Linked DNA regions of Homo sapiens. The protein of the gene in region 1 interacts with the protein of each later gene in a pairwise test. Each region holds a gene or a part of one and is shown in the gene's direction. Other genes may lie near its edges.

Region 1 (7,554 bases):
AGCCCAGGTATTCCTTCAATGGGGCCTCACAGGTGAGGCTGCAGCAACACTCCCAGCACTTGAAGGGAGTTCTGGGTAGCATATCACAATGTCCACCCCAACCCCTATTCACAGCTCAGTAATAAGTTATTGGAATTATCTCCAAAGGAACTTTACCTCCATTTATTTACAGCCTATCCTGATGCTAAACAAATAGTTAATTACCTTTATATATTGCTTCAATAAAATATTTACTAAAATTTGTGCAGTTTCTGGGCCACAAAACAGTAAATAAGACACAGACCCCATCCTCAAGGAGCACGTAGACTAGTAGGGGAGACAAGCAAGTAGGAAGTTGTTGGTTTTTTTTCCTACTCTTGATAACAAGCAATCAGTTCTCAGAAATGAAGCTCTGAGGGATTCTACTTATTTCCTTAGCTACCTGCCTTCCACTCATCCCCTTGATATTCTTCACTCTCTTTTCCAACTCATAAAAAAGTTTTGGGAGTTCATAAAAGAGCAGGCAGGCAGCCCAAAGATTACAGAATCACCAATAATATTGTAATAAGAAGTATTGGATACTTCTATAAACAGCAGTGACTTAGCATATCTGAGAATAAAGCAACTCTACTTAACACCTCCTATATGAAAGACCTTTGGCACATTATAGACATAGTCATAAAGGCTACAGCTGGAGAATTACTGTGCCCAGCTCTGAAACTTGAATATTGATTCATACGCATTGAGAGAAGAACCGAGAGACAACACAGGACCACCACATTGTGAAACATATCTTAAGAAAGATTTCTTTACATTCACTATAGCCACATCCTATATACACATAATAATTTTTATATGCTTAAGACTCCTTTCTAACATTTATAAAATAGGATGGTATCATGTTGAGTGTAACATTAATGGTTCAGTGAAATTAAAACAGATTGAATATGTTGCACATTGATGTAATCTGTATTTTTTAATAATTTAAGTATAAAACCAAAGCAGTATGGGCAAGAAATACACATTTATAGTAGACATGAAGAGCATTTTTACTATCTCTGTATCTGACATTCAGGAGACCTCTCAACTTTATGTGAGTTACATGAACTTTTATGTTGAAACAAAGATGGCAATTTCCCTAATTTTACATTTAGTGATTGCTTACTAGTTCATTCATTTGTTTTTTTCTGTTTTTATGTATTCAGTGAATTTGGAGATGTAAAATATTTAAAGAAAAATTATTCTTTTTTGTTCAAAGCAACACACACTAATTATAAAAATCCAAACAAAATAGAGAATTATGATGAAGATAAGCAAAAAATAACTCAATTCTTTTAAGTAGATGTTTTTAATAAAGTAAAATTACCAACCAATCCGCAAGCATTTATTTCAGGCATATAACATGCTAGATACCATGCTGGGCATTCAGGGGATGCAGAAAAGTATTATTCCCTGCCCTCTTGAAATTAATGGTCTAGAGGAAGGTCACGCAAAAATTGTAAGAAGTATCTAACAAGTTGCATACTAATAAATAAAGGACGAGTTGGGGTTAGCTATTTCCTGTTTCCTAAATGAACACTTATATTCATGAAAAAAACATAATAAAATGTGGCTAGACCTTCTATATCATGCAGAACCCTCCAAAATGTATACATAACATCCATTTCCATTGTTCAATCTTTCCCTCAAAATGTCTGCCTCTGATATATTTTCTTCTCTTTGATGTGTTTTATTGTCTTCCATCTTTGTTCCCTCTTCTTTCTTGTGTTACTTTTTCTTCTCTTCCCATCTTCTTTAAAATCCTCAAGGAGATATTCTTCAGAATCCCTCCAGGAAAGTATTATTATAGAAGAGGCCAGGCTCAACAAGACTGGAGGGGTGTGGCTCTCCGTCCTCCAGAGCCCCTCTCCATGCCGAGCCCACCCACTGCCATTCTCCCTCCCTTCTCCTCTTCCCCCTTAGCTCTGGGGGGAGACCTACATTCTAGGCCTAACTTACCAGATATCTGGATACTTTATAATGAAAATCATTTATAGCTACTTTCCACTAGGAGCCCACTTACAGATGAGGAAAAAAAAGGGATTTTTATAAGGAAAATGGTGTTCTAGATTTCAATGAGTAGAAACAGCTTATCATATTTAAACTATCTCATTGTCACGTGTAAAAATCACCAACAAATTCATTATTTGCAGTCCAAGAGCAAAGAAGCAACCAAACCACTCTATTACTGTCTTCAACAAGCATGTTGTTGACTTAATCTACTAATAATCACCAAATTAAAGTGATTTTCAGTCTGCCAATCATCAGGTCATCATTCAACCTCTTTGGGCCTTAGCATCCTCAATTGAAAAATTTGGTCTTGAATTAAATTAAATTATGTTATTTCTGAGGTATAGAATTTTATGATTCAAGTATTCAAAGGAATTGAAAGAATGCAAAGGTCACAGAAGTATGTCCTGAGTTTAATAAGGGACCTGGATAACACACACACACACACACACACACACACACACACACACACACACACTGCAATGATGCAAATGTGTTTATGTACCAAAAGCTAATTACATTTTTTTAAAAGCACTGGCACATTATAAACCCCCATTTTTACTTTTTAGATATATTATCATCTACCCACACTAGTGACCTTTCTTTAAAAATAAATAAGAAAATGTTTTATAACTAGGTCATATTAAACATGTTGACATAAGGTTTGGCCCTTTCCCTTAGTCTCACCCACATGTGTGGTGCGTATAAATCGAGTGGTTTTAATTTGAAATATTATTTCAAAAATCTAAACATAAGATAAGCTAAAGGGCATACACAGGCATAAGAAAAATTAGATTCCTTGCATATAAAGTAGAATAGTGCATTTTATATTAAATATTAAATTTTTAAATGAACCTAAAAGGATGAATTTTTTAAAAAAAGTTATGATAGTATTTTCTATAACTTGGTAGAACTTTTAGAACTGACTCTGACTTTAAGGCTGATCTAGACTACAGGCTGTTGGCCTAAAATCCACGGATGAGGGTCCGTCCATGCCCGTGATCTAGGGAATTCATCAAATCCTGGAAATTAGATGAAATATAGTGTGTGTAGATTCATTATTTAATGGTGAAAATGCAGTGCTTCCAACAGAAGGCGTTTTGAACCCAATATATTCAAGAAACACTGGCTTCTATTTCAAGTCCTTGTTTTAGTGATGAGGGTACTGAAGTCCAGAAATGGCTCGGGGTTGCTGGGGACCACAGCTAATTAGCTACTGTGCCAGAAATAGATCTCACATCTGTAGTGGAGCCATCAATCCAGCTCCTTCCTTCTCTGTACGCAATAGATTAGTCATAAAATGGGATATGGAATCCTTTTTTCTTCCAAAAAAAAAAAAAAGAGAGGAGGATTGAAGTTTTGAAATGAGATCTAAGGGAAAATGTCATAGAGGCATGCCGTGGAGATCAGAAAATAAACCCCAGCCCTGGATTCAAGCAGTGGATGTCCTTTCAGCAGAAAGCAACAATTTGAGAACTGGCTTTTCCTATTCCTGTTTAACGCCCCACCATTCATGGTGAATTTCTTTTCCATTGCCTTACGATTGTCTTTGGTTTATCTTCTCTTGTATCTCATGGTAGGCTTTCTCCTCGGGCTTGGGAATACATTTTCCCCCTTCACTCCCCTCCCCAACATTTATGTTCCTCATGGTTTCTTTCACTTCACATGAAATTTATGGCCCCCACATGTGCCTTTCTGTGACCCTGTGAGGAGAGAGGAGAGAGGCATAGAACACTAATCTGTGGCATAGAACACTTGAAGGGTTCAAGCCACGAGGATGAATCTGCCTGAATGTCCAGCAGACAAGAAGTGGCCACGCTAGTTCTACCTGAGCACAGGTCTGCTGCGGCCACCTCACTGGCCAAAGAACCAAGCACACAAGGGCACACGAGCGTTGGAGAATCGACAGCGCTCCATAGGAAAGTACCAGAAAGGGAAAGCCGACTCTAATGTTTTTCCTCTCCTACTTTTCTAGCCTGTGAGGGAACACGTTGAAGAAAAACTAAGCAGCAGGTAATGGCAGAGACTTGTTTTTGAGCAACTTACAACACGTTTCTCTCTTCTTAAATCTTTTCCAGTTGGCTCACGTATTACCCACAGAAGAGAATTTCCTGCTGCTCTTCCGATGCCAGCAGCTGAAGTCCTGTGAGGAATTCATGAAGGTATAAGAAAGCTGCCCCTTTAAGAAAGCTGCTTAAAGTAGGAAAATTGTTCCTTTTATTAAAAATGTGTTTGTTTTCCTTATCCAAAATTACTTACAGACATGGAGAAAATATGATACTGACCACAGTGGCTTCATAGAAACTGAGGAGCTTAAGGTAAGCAAATAAAAACTTGTACTAAGTTTTTCCTTTCAGATGCAATTATGAACTAAGAGTTTCCTAGCTTTTTAAAAAACCTCCCACAAAAGAAACTAATGTTGAACAGTGTCACATTTTCACCTACTCTTCGACATTGTTAATGAAGTACCAGATCAAAAAAGCATCTTCAATTGCTTCTGGAAATTCTGTACAGTAATGCAAAAAATTAACATTTTTTGTGGTGTACACAAATATAAGACAGACAGACAGATAGAATTATAGATAAGCCGAATAAGCCATTCTTTTATTGAAATTTGTAGTTTTAGTTCTCAAAATAAACACATATATATATAAATTTTCTTACAAAAGAAAGAAGAAAAAGTTACTGAATAGCTACTGTATGCCAACTACTTTACACATAATGCCTTATTTAATCTTTGCGTAAGTTGTATGACATTGTATTACCCCATTGAGGAAGAGTTGAGAGAAGTTAAATGATATACTGAAGGCCACACAGAAATCGGACAGAGCCTTGATGTGCAAATCCAGGCTTGTCTGCCTCCAAGGCCTGTAGACATTCTACACAACCTACTGACTCTCAGCAATGATGATAAAAAATAAAAAATCTTCTAAAATTAAACTTTTGAAAAACTGCAACTTAGAGAATGAATTTATCACTTCGGATATCACAGAGGAGGATATAAAGGAAAAGGCAGAGATCTGAAATCAAGTCTTAACTCATTAATTACTATATCTTTCCAATTTTCTTTAATCTTTAAAATGAGTGTAATAAATCCTTCCTCTCAGGCTTATTGTGAAGCTCCAGTAAGATTCTGCACATGAAAGCTTTTGTGACATGCAACATAAAATAAATTATATTATTCATGAACTCAATTTACTAGCCTTTCAGGAATATGGAAGTATTCTTCTCATTTCCTCAAGCCGACCCCAAAACATCGCCATCTGAAAGACCCTACTTTTTCTATTTTTAGAACATAGAGTGACTAAAATATAAGTGAGTTAATATTTACTGACTATCTGTCAGGCAGAGTACAAGGTGCTTGAAGTGTATTTTAAAATTTAATCCTCACAGAAAATATGCAAGGCAGGTATTATCACTCCTAATATAAAAACAGTGAGATTGGAATGCAGAGAGATTTGATGATTTTTCAAGATTACACAGCTGCCTAGGAAGAGAACCTGGATTTGTACCTAGAATATCTGATAATGCTAAGAATGATTCCCCACCCCACCCCCACAGCACTACATGCTTTCAGACTTCATTTATTAAGAGCTGCTCTTTTGCTATGTGGGGAAATATGAATATCAACAGTTCTAGTCATAATTCAACATAGTTTGAGTAGCATACAATTTTAAAGATGGAACGGGGACATTTGGGCCATGGCAAAATGGCTAAAACATACTCAATTTTATCCTCTTGAAAATGTAAACGTTTTTAATGTGAAGTCACTGAAAACAGTGTATTTTACAAACTTGCAGCTCAGCAATCCACAAGGTGACAGTTAAGCCACTGTGTTTTTATTTTATTAGTTAGACCAAAAATATTCTTTTAAAGATCCTTTTTAGTTCATAATGAAAACCTTAGCTCATTTCCAATACTGACCTCTAAATATTCTAAAAGCCTCCTTCTTTGTTCTAAATTTTATTCTCAGAAAGAGATTCTAAATAGAAGTCCTCTTCCCTGGGGAATTTTGAAGATAAGTTGGCATTCTTTTTTAATGGATCTTTCAAGAAAGCTAATTTTAAGATCCATAATAGAGTAAAACATCACTTGCTCTCAGACACGACTTTGAATCTCTGCGTCCCAAGGTTTCTCCGAGGCTATTTTTGTGACCACCATTTTAGTCTCTGATGAGGCTTTTTAACCCAATTAATCTCTGACAAAAGCCCCAGAAGGCTCAAAAATAAAATTCAACCCCAACAGATAACTTTGAATTTTCCATGCTTCACTTTGGATTTGAAGTGGAATATTTGAAGTAAAAAATTTTTATCAAACTAAGAAAAGAGTCTCTTTCCTTTAAAAAAGTGGCATCAAATCAGCCCAGAACTGGAACATTTAGGAGAGAGATAAGTCATTGCTAAATCAAAGAAATCTAATCCTTCAATAATATCTGGGCACAGTATCTGCCTAGTTTTTCCTAATTGCATTAATTCATTTTCTGAGAAAATAAAGGAGTTACGAATGAATAGCACTAAACAAAATGAATGACTATTATAAAGTGCTTACACTGTCACTTATATGGCAAATCTTTGTAAAGCTTTTATTTATGTTTCTGTTAAAAAAACTTAAATTCATTCCTAAGCTCCAGGTGTCAAGTTAATAATCATCTTTTTTTCATCCTTCCCACATTAATCTCTATTTTAATATGATTCATATATCTTTCAAAGATTCAATGACATCAACTGTGGCCAATTTTGTTAATTTAAATAGTCAGTGGAAGCATTTTAACCAAAGTGCTTTGGACTGCATTAGGCTAAAAACTACCCAACTGGCCCTCTGGAGAAATAAGCATCATGCTGGCTATAAACTAATGTGTAAATACAGCCTGGGGAGCAGAAAATGGATTTGAAATTAGGGATAGATCTCTATTTGGTTTACTGATATTTTTTCACAATATTCCAAAGGTATAAAGGCCCTTGTGTTTCTTGCAGAACAATCCAATGAGTACTTGTGAAGATATCAGTAAGAAGAAATGCATCCATTGGGCTGGCTGGTTTTAAAAGGTTTTATTCAGGTTAATTGAAATCATAAAGTCATGGTAATGCACAGACAATGATCAATCAAGTCTCAGTAAAAAGCAGGTATTATTCCTGTCAAAGGTAGTTTCATTGCTGGAATGCCAGGAGGACAACCTGGTTTAGTCTTTCTTCTATTATAAGTTCCTCTACTCACCTGCTTCTACCCCTCAAAAGGAGACTTTCTTTGCATTCCTGGTATGTCCTGTTCCAAGGCATTCTGAAATGAAAGTAGACGATATATTATTAATGAAATTAATCTAAGTGTTCTTTGTTTTAACAGAACTTTCTAAAGGACCTGCTAGAAAAAGCAAACAAGACTGTTGATGACACAAAATTAGCCGAGTATACAGACCTAATGGTAAGACTGATCTTGAAAAGATTGTACCCAAGAGCTCATGAAGTAGTATGATGTTCTTGCTAACTCCCAAGGCTACACAGGATGAAATAAATAAACGGTGGTGTGGGC
Region 2 (7,554 bases), on another chromosome or scaffold:
CATCTCTGTTGATATCTGTTTTACTGTTGGTTCAGAGTGGAGTCATCCATTTGGTTACTAGTATCTCTTGATTACATTTTACAGCTTCTTCCTCTAGAGAGAGGCTGTCAGCTCCAATCTGGGAAATCCCAGGGAATGTCTGCATTGTCTTAGCGTGGCTCAGGCACCCACTCCTGTGGCACCCTCTGCCCTACCCTTGTGAAGAGAGGAAGACAGTTACTAGAAAGAAGGCGTTACTAGGCAGATAGCACATGGTATCTGTGAATTTTACTCCTCTGCCCCCATTTCCTTGCCTTTCTCTTTTCCAGGTTTAGTGGAGTCTTTGAGTTTGCTCTCTCAACCTTTTGGAAGAGGCCAGTCATGGAATTGAGGCCTGCTGGTTCCTTTGTCAACTTCATTTCCCTGACTGTTAGCAAACTTTGCCGCAGTAATGCTGCATAGCAAACTGAATCTCAGCAGCTTATAACCAGCACTTGTTCACATGTTCATGGGGCGGCAGGTCTACCAAAGTTCAGCTGAGCTAGGAAGGCTTCAGCTGGTGGCTTGGCTGCAGGCTGCCCAGGTGTGGGTCCAGGCTGTGGGTTGATGTCAGGCCTGCTGCATGTAGAGTTACTTAAAAGCAAATGGAATAATATAAGTAAAGCGCCTGGCATTGTGCCCACCCACCATCAGGTGGGCACTTGTGTTAACCATTAATTCCTGACTGCCACATTGCATGGTGATCTTCATGCACAGTGGAAGTGTATTTAGACTTAATAACGTTTCTGTGAAAAGCAGTGTTCTGAGAGACTAAGTTCAAAACTTTGGTGCATATAACTTCTGACCTTGCCTCCTCTTTTTAACATTTTAGCCAGCTTACCAAAACCTGAGGCAGAAAGTGGATAATTTTGTGTCAACACATCTGGACAAGCAGGAATGGAATCCTACGATGAACAAAAACCAGTTGCGAAATGGTCTGAGGCAGAGTGTGGTTCAGTAAGTAAGCAGAATTTAAAGCTTTTGAAAAGGCAGTCATCACAAGTGTGATGCACAAGAAGGTTGAGGTCTCTGTTTAGTCAAGGTTGATGGGACTTTATATCAAGTATCACTTAGGAGTTGCAGCAGTCTGCTCTTTTGTTATAATTAAGGTTAAAGGAAGCAAAGTACTCAGTTGAAATTCCAGTTTCTGCAGCCTGTGAAGGCCTCCTGTGTGCATCTCTACTGGGTGCATCAAAAGGCATTCCAAATCGTGAGACATTTTCCCTGCTCTTTGAAGTTTCAGTGTTGTCCAAACATATATGTGAGTTTTATACCAAGATATCAGGGTTTGGATCTTGGGCAAGAGGAGTTGGATCTTTATTCTCACAGGTGAATGTGAACTAAATAAATTCTTTGAGTCCACCAGGACTGCCACCTCTAAAGTGTAATGGTGACAGCTTTCAGGAAGGCATAGTCTTAATAAAGTATCGTACTTCACAGTAACAAACTGAACCTTAGTTAATAAAGGTGCTATTGATAGCTTATCTGAGTGACGCACAAAAGTGGAGGTGGAGGAGGGTACAGAAATGGGAGAACACATTAGTGATTGCCTGGGGTTACGGATGGGAGGAGGGGGTGAGTGTGACTTGCAAGTGGTAGCACAAGGGGGAGCTTGCAATGGTGCAGTTAAGTGTCACTGAATTGTGCTGTGCTCACGTGCAACAGCTCGTATGGTAAAGTCGCACGGAGCTACACACACAAATAAGTGCAAGTGTAACTGAAGTCTAAATAAGGTCTGGATTGGACCAGTGTCATTTTCCTGGTTTTGATATTGCACTAGTTACGCAAGGTGCTGACATTAGAGCTGGCTGGGTGAAGGGTGCGTGTGGAACTCCCTGGACTCTTCTTCACAACTTCCTGTGAATATGCAGCGATTTTAAGATTTCTAAAGTTTTTAAAAGTGTTTTACTAACAAGCTAGTACTTCCAATATGGCTGAATGCTGGGAAGAAGCCTGATAGCAGAAGATGCCCAGTGCCTTGTCATTCTGGAGTCAGTACCGAGTGCCTTTCCCTTTCTCCAGAGAACAGACTGGTGGCACCGGGCTCTTTCAGAAAGAAGGGGACAGTAGCTGCCCCTTACTGAGCAACTCTTTATTACATGTCTGGCACTGGTCTTTACATATATCACTCATCCTCATGAAAAGCCTGTTTCACAGCTAAAGTCACTTGTGTTTACCCTGTCTTGAGTAAATCAAAACACTGAACATTCTGAAATATTTGGAAAGTTGCCATGATTGTATGAAGGCTGTTAACATTGCTTTGATTTCTGTAATGAGCATGGATGTCATTCTAGAGGTATGCATGTGGCGCTTCCTCTTGCATTTCTTTAGTAGGAATTGTAATACGGAAAAGTGCACAGAAGTTCAGTGAAACAGATAATTAGAACATCCCTTGATCACCCAGATCGAGAAATGGACTCACACCCCCGAAACAGCCTAGCTCCGGATGTACTTTCCTCCTTTCGGAAGTTTTCCATATTCCTGACTTTTATACTAATCATTTCCTCTCTGCATAGTTTTTACCACCTCTGTGAAGTTGTTGTTTTTTTTTTTTTCCCTGCTTTTTGATTTGACTTAGAATGTGTTTAACCTGAAAACATGAACTTGGCTTTAATACTGGGACATTTCTCCACAATTCTTGCTAGCATTTTGAATTTGAGGCAAAATCTACTGGAGTTTCGAAACGCAGACTTTCTGCTTGCCCCCAGGTGCTCTCCCCAGGTGGACACTGCAGGCCTTCAGAGCATTGGCTCACTGGCCTGGCTGTTCTGGCCCAGATGCTGTAACCCAGTGCCACAGCCTAGAGGGTTTAACAGGAAATTAGCCTGTGCTATTGCACTGAATTATGACGAATAACTCTTGTAACTGTACAATATTTGTTTTTTCCATCTTGTACATTGGGCTCCTGACAAGATTTTATGTTTTCCTCAAAAGTTTAAGAATCTCCAGGAAAGTGAGCTGCACTCCCTTGGTAGTTTGTTTCCCCTGATCAGGGGTTTTGGTCAGTTGGGGATGCTTTAACAAGGCGCCGTAGACTAGGTGGCTTGTAAACAATGGAAATTTACTTCTCACCATTCTGGAGGCTAGAAGTCCAAGACCAAGATGCCAGCATGGTCAGGTTCAGGGGAAGGCCTTCTTGCAGGCAGCAGACTGCCAACTGCTTGTTCTTCTCATGTGGTGGAAAGAGAGCTCGCTAACTTCCTGGGGTCCCTTTTGTAAGGGCATAAATTGCATTCGCGGAGGCTCTGCCCCCATGACCCGATCGCCTCCCAAAGGCCCTACCTCCAAAGGCCATCACATTAAGGATTAGATTTCAACATAGGAAGTCTGGGGGACACAGGCATTTAGTTGATAATATCAAGCTTTTACATCTGGTAAAGGACCCTGTGAATCCGACTCAGGAAGTGGTTTGGTAAAGTTGGAAAGGTATTGGCTTGTGACTGAGGAGAGGTGGCTTTCCTTTGTTAGCATCCCATAGCCGGATGCTAACTTTGCTGTATTTAACGATGCTCATCACTAAGGGCCGATACTGTCTAATGCCTGGTCTACCTGAAAATGTGCCCTTCAGTGCTCTAGTGGTGGTGTATTTACATCTAGGCTTCCTGTCGATAAGCTGTTAGTTACCATTGAATCCAGGGAGCACTTTACACACTAATCATCTTTCCCAGTTCACAGCCTGTTTCTTATCTTCTTTGTCATGATGTACATTTACTCATGTCTTTCCTTTGCTGTACCCTGACAGACCATTTGCCCACTTGCTGCCCAGCCTATTTTTACCCGAAGGCTTAAATGGCCTCTGAAGTCTCAAGTCTACGGGAAAATAAGTAAAACCTGCCCACATGCTTGTGATGGTATTGGAATATTTCAGTCCTTTGAGAAGAACACTTCACTTTGAACCTTACGGGCTATTTTCCAGACTGTCCAAATATGATTTGTTTCCTCTCACCATCATTTCCAGTACCCTGTCCCAAGTGTTTGAATATAGACATTGATATGCCCTGATTTTTGCTCTACTTCAGAAAGGATCGGGGATGTAATTTAGCCCTCTAGGAGCTTGGAACTAATTTGTTTGTCTATTTCTTGTTTGCTTCCAAGTTGCTTATTATGTGTTACAGGTAGCAACTACAGCTGAAGGCCATGGTGAATTGCTGGTGATGTAAATACTCCCAGCCCTGACTGATCGGCCTTGTTTAAATTTTAAGGATTAGTAAACAGGTTGCTGCTGGAGCTACTTCTGCTTAGGCTATTAGGAGAATAAATGTTGAAGGAAATGGAGTCCAATTCGGGGCTTACTGGCTTTGACAGTACGAGGAAGCTTTTCAGTGCCACACGTGTCAAACTCTTTCTCACCATGCTGTCATTTGTTTGTTGTTTTGGAGCAACTCACTTAGTTTTGTTTTTGATTCTTTTGTACAAGGTTGGGTGATTGTGGGTGAGATTGTGCAGTAGGAATAACAGCTGCTGGTTGAGAATTACCCCTCAAAAGTGAAAATAGCGTGAGCTGTATATGGTAAGTGGATTGACCTCTAAACTCCCTAGAAGGGCTGTAGCTTTGAAGGTGGACATTTATTGGGCTCGCACGTGACACTTATTGGGGCTAAAGATGAATCCCGAAGGAACTAAATAACAGAATGATCTGTTTGTCTCCACAAGGTCAGGGATGTTGGAAGCTGGAGTAGACAGGATTATTTCTCAGGTGGTGGATCCAAAACTTAACCACATCTTCAGGCCACAAATAGAACGAGCAATTCATGAGTTCCTGGCGGCCCAGAAAAAAGCAGCTGTGCCAGCACCCCCTCCAGAGCCCGAAGGCCAGGACCCTCCAGCTCCATCTCAGGACACTTCCTAAGGTCCAGTATCCTATCTTCTGTCCAGGAGTATGCATCTCTGGCTTGTAGATATGTAAAATGGATAGGAATGGGGTAGGCCGTAATTGAGGATCATTCAGGAAGTATTTACTGCAGATGGACTTCACCTACTGTTATAAGTCACTTTTTACTGAGAACTAATTAGTAGCAGTTTCCTGTGTCAGTGACTGATTTTCTGTTCCACCAGCGCTAAACATGTAAGCTATGGATAGATGCTTCATTAGAAATCAGCTGGGATGATTGGTGTGCATAAAGGGGATTCAAATGAAAGTCTTATTTTGCTGAAATGTTTAAATGAGTCTCTCCTGGACATGAGTTAACTTAGGCTTGCAATTTTATTTAAAATCAAGCAGTGCCTTCTGAAGTGATATCCTAAATGGGATTCAGAGTCTGCTTTGAGTGCGACTCGATTTCCATGAATTTAGAAGGAGTTTGTTTACCACTATCAATTACCATGGGATTCTTCTGTTAGGAACACTCCCCCTTTTTAAATTAAATTTGGAATTAAATGTAATTTTAAACAGCTGTAGATGTACAAAAGAATGCTTTTTGCAGGTTTTGGGAGACATTAGTAGGAGCAGCGATGAAGTTAGCAGTGGACTTTTCGCCGTTGTTGGTGACTGCTGGGATATGTTTTATCCCTTCATTCTGATTTGGTGTTCTTTTTAAGATTCTCTGAGATGCCTGTTATAATCAGTAAGTGAGGTGAATTGACTAGGGCGTTTTGAGTGTCAGTGATGAGCAACGCAAGAGCATCAGGACTGTCTTTTTGTTCCTCTATTGAGAGAAGCCCTTGAGTCCAATATGGAGTGTAAAACATTCATTTTAAGTCTTTCTTTTTAATTGTAAATTCCTTTAGGAACATAAAAGTGAATATAGTCTGTTATCAATAAATAACATTTTGATATGATTATCTTTCCTTTTTAGAATACGCCAGACACCTTTTGAAAGCTAATTTTTGGTGAAGAAATGGATTCGGTTACATAAGAGTGCAACTTCAGACTGAAGATAGGCCAAGGTCGTCACTGATCTCAAGATTTCAACCTTGACCATGGGCAGTGACCAGATTGAAAGGGGAGCAAGTTCGGCAGTGGGAGAGTTGACCGTGTCACCCCCTGCATTGTGCTGCCATTTGGCCAGCCTGTCCAAGGGCATGACACCAAGTAGACACTACAGAGAGAGAAACACTACAGCAACCCAGGGTTGTCCTGAAACAGACTTTTATACTTGAACATGGAGACTGCACATGGACTTTAGGGTTTGTGCTGTGGGATAAACGGAAGCTACAGTGAGAACATAGCCAGTCCCAAAGACAATTTCAAAGAAAAATGACAGTAAAGATTAGCTGGGAGTAGTCTTTGACAGTGCTTATTTGATACTGTCTCTCAGAGTTTGCAAACCAGATTGTACAAGTCATTAGCGTCAGATAGCTTTAAAGTTGTGACCTTCTTGTACATGAATCTTCTAGCCAGTTTCCTTTCCTTTGTAACGAAACATGAAATCCTAGAATGTATGAGAAGTTCAGACATTAGGCATAAGGAAACTCGTTTGCAGGCTCTCTGTCCAGGGCTGCTTCCTGTCCTGGAGGGGCCAGTGAGTCTTAGGTATGTTTATTTTATTCTCACATTTGTGTTTTTTTAGAAAAGTGAATGGTCAATAAATGGCTTATCTTTCATAATAAAATTATTTGATACTTTTACTCCGAAGCTTCAGCTGAAGCTTAAACCTCAGGTCTGTGAAGGGCAACCTTTGTCTTCTGCCTCTGTGCACCACACATGATCTACTGGCAGTGAAGATTGGTACATATAACTTGGAACTATGAAACTAGTAGGTGTAGCTAGTAGTGGGCTGTTTCTCTCCTCCCTGAGCCATTACTGACACTGGTCTTTAGTTGAGGTAGTCCGTGGTATGTGTCAGTGTTTGTCATCCTTGTGTGTGCAGAAGTAGCACCTGGGGATTTAAGGGAAAATGCATATTTCTGATTAAGAAGTTCTGGGGTGGGACCTAAGAGTGAGTGTTTCTGACAAGCTGCCAGGTGATGCTGATGCTGCCAGGCCTCTGAACATACTCTGTATAATAAGCCTTGGATAATATATCCAAGATTATGTCTAACTAAGTCTGTGGTTCTTGGTTGAGTCTACTACTGCATATTGCTGCTAATCTGATCAAAATTTTAACCAATTCAGTTGGTTCCCTGTTAAGACAAAGGCTCCACTTCCACCTTTACCATGAATACCCCTGTATGAGCACTGCAGTGCCATATTCAGCAAGATGCTTGGTAGCATGTGCCCTAATTTTAAAGCAAACTGGCCACACGTTTAAGGCAGGTGCCAGTTATATCTGACGTGTGGTCTGTTCCCACCTGGTAGGTGCAGTTCCATTTCAAGCTGCCTTACAGTTGCAGGAGTCAACAAAGTTCTTAACCCCAGAAAATGGACCCTCCACTCCTCTCTACTACTAGGCAGACAGGGAGTGGCCAGAATTAACCAGTCCTGTGCTTGCAGAAAAGCTGCTCAGACTAACTGGAGTGTCTCCTCTTCAGGACCACATAGCTTTAATGGGAAGTTCCTTCCCTGTGAGGCATCCTTCTGGGAGGGAGATCTCCACACAACTACTTTGTGTTGACCCTCCCAACATCTTGCCTATCCCGCACTGACCTCAACTAGCA

The links.
Region 2: the proteins of CALB1 (region 1) and BOD1 interact in binary tests that used the Homo sapiens proteins (3 or more experiments, as listed by UniProt).

What each region holds. Positions count from the first base shown.
Region 1 is NC_000008.11:90,065,790-90,073,343, reverse strand, and holds part of CALB1 (calbindin), read left to right. Parts: intron 1-4,106; coding exon 4,107-4,190; intron 4,191-4,289; coding exon 4,290-4,346; intron 4,347-7,061; exon of another isoform or gene 7,062-7,305; intron 7,306-7,368; coding exon 7,369-7,446; intron 7,447-7,554. UniProt on the Homo sapiens protein: Buffers cytosolic calcium. May stimulate a membrane Ca(2+)-ATPase and a 3',5'-cyclic nucleotide phosphodiesterase.
Region 2 is NC_000005.10:173,606,552-173,614,105, reverse strand, and holds the end of BOD1 (biorientation of chromosomes in cell division protein 1), read left to right. Parts: intron 1-850; coding exon 851-975; exon of another isoform or gene 976-979; intron 980-4,435; exon of another isoform or gene 4,436-4,528; intron 4,529-4,671; coding exon 4,672-4,867; 3' UTR 4,868-4,868; intron 4,869-5,813; coding exon of another isoform or gene 5,814-5,841; 3' UTR 5,842-6,961; downstream 6,962-7,554. UniProt on the Homo sapiens protein: Required for proper chromosome biorientation through the detection or correction of syntelic attachments in mitotic spindles.